2 linked regions of the Homo sapiens genome follow. The protein of the gene in region 1 interacts with the protein of each later gene in a pairwise test. Each region holds a gene or a part of one and is shown on either strand. Other genes may lie near its edges.

The links.
Region 2: the proteins of ASCC3 (region 1) and SKIL interact in a two-hybrid assay, tested with the Homo sapiens proteins (one large-scale study listed by BioGRID and IntAct).

Annotation. Positions count from the first base shown.
Region 1 is NC_000006.12:100,647,179-100,651,006, reverse strand, and holds part of ASCC3 (activating signal cointegrator 1 complex subunit 3), read left to right. Parts: intron 1-292; coding exon 293-469; intron 470-3,555; coding exon 3,556-3,781; intron 3,782-3,828. UniProt on the Homo sapiens protein: ATPase involved both in DNA repair and rescue of stalled ribosomes. 3'-5' DNA helicase involved in repair of alkylated DNA: promotes DNA unwinding to generate single-stranded substrate needed for ALKBH3, enabling ALKBH3 to process alkylated N3-methylcytosine (3mC) within double-stranded regions.
Region 2 is NC_000003.12:170,360,572-170,364,399, forward strand, and holds part of SKIL (ski-like protein), read left to right. Parts: coding exon 1-858; intron 859-3,828. UniProt on the Homo sapiens protein: May have regulatory role in cell division or differentiation in response to extracellular signals.

The sequences.
Region 1 (3,828 bases):
GATGGTGAGGTCAGAAGATTTAATTTTTTGGCATATCAAATTTTTATATGTCAATGGCAAATTTAATATTGGTGATGAATAATAAAATGTAATTGTATCAGCCTCAAGATCATTTCATATTGCAGTTTTTTAGCTACCTATGGAAAAATCATTGTTATTTAACTCTATGAAAGAAAAATGCTGCATTATAGTAAATGGAAACTCTTTAAAAACATGCAATGTATTTAATTTCAATGTGAAAAATTTAAATAAATCAGCCCCAAAATTCCAATAAATACATTGATTCTTCTAGGTCAGAGAAGAGGAAATAGAGGAGTTAGATACCTTATTAAGCAATTTTTGTGAACTCTCCACTCCTGGAGGTGTAGAGAATAGTTATGGGAAAATAAACATCTTACTTCAAACTTATATCAGCCGAGGAGAAATGGACAGTTTCTCCCTTATATCAGATTCTGCATATGTTGCACAGGTAAGTATCTTATTCCCTTCCAGTTTTCTCTTCCTTGAATATATTTAGAGGACCAAGGTGTTAATTCATGCTGTGCTATGAATGCATTGCTTTGTGACATGCTACCAAACCACCATTTTACTTAGAACTGTTTCTGCTAATTTGTAAATATTTTATGTAATCTATGCTCATAAAACAGGACTGGGGATGAGATTTGGTGACTGATAGGGCTTTTTTTGGTGATGTTGATGTTTCTTACAAAGTTTTAAAATGATACCTGATTTTTTTCTACTTTAAATGATGAATTTCATTTCTTTTACTTATAAAGTAAAAGAATATAAAGTACTTATAAAGAGAAAAGTTAAAGAATATTGCAAGCATAAAGAAAAGATTGTGGAACTTTTTTAGATTTTTACCAAATATTAGAAATAATAATATTTTTAATCATTAAACAAGGCGTAGTAAACATATTTCCTACCATACGTTCAGTGTGATGTCTCTGGTTTTTACAAAAGTAATCTCTCCTCTCTACTGTTGAAACTTAAACATTGAGGACAGAAAGAAAATTATTCCCTAAACTACAGCTCATTTAATTTATAACTTTTAAAAAATACCATGGTATAAACTGTTCAAATATTTGTGTTTTTATATTCAAGCCCTTATGTGAAGTAAAGTAGGTTATATTTTACCCTATTTATCCTTCAAATGAAAGATTTCCCTTCTAGACATACTTTTTTAAAAAAATTATTTACCTGTCAAGGCTTTTTAATTTTATTTTATTGAGTACTTCCTTTTATAAATTAAGAAGAAATTAAAGCTTAATTTTATTTTAAATATGGAAATGATTCTGCTGTTATATTTGTAATTTTGTTCAAAGAAAGACTAAATATAGAAAAAGAATGTTTGTGTTAAATATATCATTATTAATAGCCATGAGTACTCAGGAGTCCTTTAAACATGGAATATTTACAAACACAAACCAAGACATATTGGTAAACATTTTGAATGCATGTAGTAATTTAATCAATGTAACCAAGATACCAGGTTATATAATTCATAAATTATATAAAGTTAATATAGATGTAGTGAAAATATTTATATATTCTTTAAACCCTATAGCTTCTATAGGAATAATTTTCTAATCTCCTTTGTTTTATCTGTTTTTCTGTAAAGTAATGTAATATTGTCATTTTATATTTTCTAATGATTTTATATTGAAATAGTTAATCATTTAAATAAAAGGTAAAGTTTTACTGGGTTCTGGATGAATAATCTGGCAACATTTCTGCTTGCTTCAAGATTATGAAGATATTATCAGAGACTGACATAAGAATTGCTTACAATGTAAAACTTTAATTCTCTTCATGATTGGTATCCAGGAAGTCAACTTCTGATTAAGGATATCTCAAAGCATCCCTGTTTTTTCTTAAACAGCCATTATGGATTTAGCATCCCTGAATGCATCAGATAAATTATACTTTATTACATTTTAAGTTTAAGCTATCAGTAATTGAACAACTACTCTCTCAACTCTGTAAAATGATATTTTCTTCTATATTTTTTAAACTTTCTCTCCTCAGCCCCTAAGGTAAACCTATAGCTCAAATATTCTAGGATTTTATTTAAAGGCCTATGCTTAACTTTTCTAGACTGTACATGTTATAGACTTATTATTTTGAACCAATTTATATCATTCTAGATTAACATGTCCTGTTTGTATCTTGTCATATGGAATTTCTCCTACTTCTTTTAGCATTGAGGGGATAACTGTAGATCCTGAAATATTAAAATGACATACTTTCAAAGGCAGGAAAATTAGCCTGATAGTTTTTTGTAAGAACAAGTGGGAATGAGGTAGGAAAACCTATTTGGTAGATACAGTAATCAAAATTTTATTTATTATTCTCTGGGCCTTATAAAGACCCATTCAGTCATTTTTAATGGATATCAGAACTGTCCTCATACTTCTATCTACCATTTTGTACTTTAATTTCTAATACTGAAACAAAATAGTCAAATTTATCAAAAGACAGCGCATATCTTATATAAAATGTGAAATGAAAGCCTTTAACTCATCTGTCATTTTTGACTTCATAATTTTAGGCTGGATTGTTTGTCTGCCATTTGAAATCTTTTCAGTTTTGTATCTCTTGTTTGGATTTTAACCAGACTGAACATTCTTTATTTTCAAATACAGATGTTACTGGATTTTGGAAGGTATAAGTTCATTTAAAAAACAATCTTTAATAAAACAATCTGCAAAGTTAATGATAGAGGAGTGGAGGCAAAATAAATGGGAGCTAGCTGTAGAAATGTGAAGAAAAAGACTACATTCATTATAACTTTCTATATGTCTATTAATAAAGTTATCCTCAGACCACTGAGTCTAGAATCTCAGTTATATTTGGAGTCCTTTAGTCCTGGCTTTGAGTAGATGCTCTGACACCAACTAGCAGTGTGACCTTGGTCAAATTTTTTACCTCTTTAAGCCCTAGTATATTCATCTATAAAATCATAATATTAATATCAATTAAATGCAATTTTTGTAAAAGTTAAATGAGGCAATATATGTAAAGCAAGTTAACACATTGTTTGGTTTATAGGAAGCCATTTGTATGGCCCTTTCATATGAGTAGCTACACTAATCAGTATTTCATTTGTCACCCTTCTCTCATTATTTTTTTTCCCTATCAGGATCCCAGTCTTCCTTAATCCTCTAAATAGCCTTGTAAATTTAATCATTCCACTATTCACCAAGAGGCGTCCTTGTCTCTTATAGTCAGATGCCTTAACAGCCTCCTAAATATTTTGCATGCCTTTTGTCTCTTCCTACTTCATTCCTGTTTAGAAGGTAGAGCTTTCTAAGAACTTGGAAATAAGGCTTCCCCTCTGAGAGTAAGCAAGTAGCATCCACATATAAAGGATAGGATTATTCTTATGTAGAAATAATAAGATAATTAGGATTATATGAGAAAAGATATTGCCCCACAATTCAAGGATGCAGCTTGACTTGCACTTCTTTTCAGACTGAGTTTGAATAATAGATTTATTGACAAATTTAAAAGCACATTGGGTATAACCACCAATCTCCTCCTATAATTTTTTAGAATGCAGCTAGAATTGTCCGTGCTCTTTTTGAAATTGCTCTGAGGAAACGTTGGCCTACCATGACCTACAGGCTCCTGAATCTTAGTAAAGTCATTGACAAGAGGCTTTGGGGTTGGGCTAGCCCTTTGAGACAATTTTCAATCCTACCACCACACATCCTAACAAGATTAGAAGAAAAAAAGCTTACTGTGGATAAGCTGAAAGACATGAGGAAAGATGAAATAGGTAAGAAGGAAGCAAATATGTTTGAATGTATTGTTTTGTGCAAATAA
Region 2 (3,828 bases), on another chromosome or scaffold:
CATTTAAATCCCAGTTTGAAACACACATTGGCACAATTCCATTTAAGTAGTCAGAGCTCGCTGGGTGGACCAGCAGCATTTTCTGCTCGGCATTCCCAAGAAAGCATGTCGCCTACTGTATTTCTGCCTCTTCCATCACCTCAGGTTCTTCCTGGCCCATTGCTCATCCCTTCAGATAGCTCCACAGAACTCACTCAGACTGTGTTGGAAGGGGAATCTATTTCTTGTTTTCAAGTTGGAGGAGAAAAGAGACTCTGTTTGCCCCAAGTCTTAAATTCTGTTCTCCGAGAATTTACACTCCAGCAAATAAATACAGTGTGTGATGAACTGTACATATATTGTTCAAGGTGTACTTCAGACCAGCTTCATATCTTAAAGGTACTGGGCATACTTCCATTCAATGCCCCATCCTGTGGGCTGATTACATTAACTGATGCACAAAGATTATGTAATGCTTTATTGCGGCCACGAACTTTTCCTCAAAATGGTAGCGTACTTCCTGCTAAAAGCTCATTGGCCCAGTTAAAGGAAACTGGCAGTGCCTTTGAAGTGGAGCATGAATGCCTAGGCAAATGTCAGGGTTTATTTGCACCCCAGTTTTATGTTCAGCCTGATGCTCCGTGTATTCAATGTCTGGAGTGTTGTGGAATGTTTGCACCCCAGACGTTTGTGATGCATTCTCACAGATCACCTGACAAAAGAACTTGCCACTGGGGCTTTGAATCAGCTAAATGGCATTGCTATCTTCATGTGAACCAAAAATACTTAGGAACACCTGAAGAAAAGAAACTGAAGATAATTTTAGAAGAAATGAAGGAGAAGTTTAGCATGAGAAGTGGAAAGAGAAATCAATCCAAGGCAAGTTTTTTATATCAATTTTTAATAATGGTAATGGTTTACTTTGAAATGAAAATTCTATGTTTAGTGTGTAACTTAACCTGTATGTTGAACATTGCTCATGCAACAACAACAAAATACCGATTGATATATTTGTATTGCAGTTTTTAGGCCATAAAGTGCTTTGCAGTATGTTTCCTCATTTGACTTTCCAAACATCCTGTGAGAGAAGTAAGACTATTATTCCGTTTTACAGATAAAGTGAATGAAGCTCAGAGAGATAAAATGACTTTCCCAAAATTATGTAGCCAGGGAGTGGAGGAGTTAGGGCTTCTTTTTTTTTTTTTTTTGTGCTTTTAGTAGAGGCCAGGTTTCAGCATGTTGGCCAGGCTGGTCTTGAACTCCTGACCGCGTGATCCGCCCACCTTGGCCTCCCAAAGGGCTGGGATTACATCCTTGAGCCCCTGTGTCCAGCCAGGGCTTCTTTTTCTTATCCTCTTTGGCACACATCTTGCTTCTTGACCACTACATCTGTTGTTTTTCTAGGACTCGATAATTTGCGCTTTGGTGTTATCTCCATTTGCAAATGGTACAATGGCCACAATTCCCGTGGGCTCAAAACAGCATTTTTCAGAGATACACCTATGATTTCTGATGTTTCTATGTTTGGATATTCAGGCTTGCTCAATATTTGAAACAAATGGAAAAGACATGTATCTGAAGAATTTGTGATTTGAAAGGAATAACAAAAAAAATGACAGCTAGAGTAAGGAAAAGTTATTTTAAACTAATAAAATATTAATATAAAAACCTGCCGGGCTCAGTGGCTCACACCTGTAATCCCAACACTTTGGGGGGCTGAAGTAGGTGGATCACCTGAGGTCAGGAGTTTGAGACCAGCCTGGCCAACATGGTGAAATCCCATCTCTACTAAAAATACAAAAATTAGACGGATGTGGTGTCGCACACTTGTAATCCCAGCTACTCAGGAGCTGAGGCAGGAGAATCGCTTGAACCCCGGAGGCGGAGGTTGTAGTGAGCCGAGATTGTGCCATTGCGCTCCAGCGTAGGCGTCGAGGGAAACTCCATCAAAAAACAAAACAAAACAAACAAACAACCTATCAACAGGTGGGAGCAATGAATGGCTCACAATCCCAGCACTTTGGGAGGCCCAGGTGGGCAGATCACTTCAGGTCAGGAGTTTGAGACCAGCCTGGCCAACATGGTAAAACCCCATCTCTACTAAAAATACAAAAATTAGCCAGGCATGGTGGTGTGTGTTTGTAGTCCCAGCTACTTGGGAGGCTGAGCCAGGAGAATCGCTTGAACCTGGGAAGCGGAGGTTGCAGTAAGCCGAGATCACGCCACCACAGTCCATCCTGGGCGTCAGAGTAAGACTCCATTTCAAAAAAAAAAAACACAACCACCTATCAGCCAAGGTATCATAATTTTATTTTTCCTGCTGCATTATCTAGTAGGCTAAACTATTATTTTCATTCCAAGGTTTTGAATGCCGAGGTAATGGACAAGATTGGGATTATTAAATATTTAGTTTCTTGATCGGGTTGTTTTATATTTTTTCCTATTTGACTAAAATTAATGTGTAATAACAGTTCCTAACACTAAGTGTTTAAAATGTGGCAAACATTATTCTTGAGCAGTTTTACATATATAATTTTATTTAATTCTTAACAAGAGGTTGGCTGTGTTTCATTTAGGAACTTTGAATTTTTCCACTATTAGTTTTGATTCCTTGAAATATCCTTGCCCATTTCTATTTTACAGAAGAAATGAATAAAGCATATTAAATGACTGACTGAAGGTTTATTCACAGCAAAGTTAGAGCTTGGACTAGTCCTTAAGACTTGGGATCCTGAGCTTTATTCTGGTGCCTTTAAGGTTTTGAGGGAAATTTAGTTAACAGTGTAGTTTAAGACATTGGTTAAGCCTAATGAAGATAATAATTTTAGACTCATTTATGGTAGTTTGCTGCTTGCTGCTTCCAGAAGACCAGCACTTTGAAATTTCTTGCCAGTGGCTGCTAGATAAGTTTATATTCTTCAGGTGTAGTTATTAACTGATTTTTTTTTTTTTGAGACAGAGTTTCGCTCCTGTTGCCCAGGCTAGAGCTCAGTGGCGCGATCTTGGCAGATTGCAGCCTCCGCCTCCTGGGTTCAAGTGATTCTCCTGCCTCAGCCTCCTGAGTCACTGGGATTACAGGCATCAGCCACCACACCCTTTAATTTTTGTTATTTTTAGCAGAGACTGGTTTCGCCATGTTAGCTAGGCTGGTCTCAAACTCCTGACCTCGGGTGATCCACCCGCCTTGGCTTCTCAAAGTGCTGGGATTACAGGTGTGAGCCACTGCTCTCGGCCTATTAACTAATTTTAAATCAGGATTGACTTCAAGCCAGTGCTCAGTGTAGAACTTGCTTACAGTTGGACTTGTCCCGTGCTGAAGTTTGTGCTCAGAGATTATATTTCAAAATGTGGAATGCCCCTTTTGATATTTGTGATATCTTGCCCCCAAGCTAATTAGGTGCTGTACTTTTTTTTTTGTAGAGACAAGTCTTGCTCTGTCGCCGAGGCTGGAGTGCAGTGGCACGATCTCGGCTCACTGCAACCTCTGCCTCCTGGGTTCAAGCAATTCTCCTGCCTCAGTCTTCCGAGTAGCTGGGACTTCAGGCGCCCACCGCCATGCCCAGCTAATTTCTTTTGTATTTTAGTAGAGAGGGGGTTTCACCATGTTGCCCAGGCTGGCCTCGAACTCCTGAGCTCAGGCAATGCGCCTGTCTCTGCCTCCCAAAATGCTAGGATTACAGGCGTGAGCCACCATGCCCAGTGGTGGTCTACTCTTACATGTCTGTTGGAGGCCACATTTGCCAGATATTGTTGCTCCCGTCTTTTTTTTTTTTTTTTTTTTTTTTTTTTTGAGACAGAGTTTCGCTCTTATTGCCCAGGCTGGAGTACAATGGCGCGATCTCAGTTCAC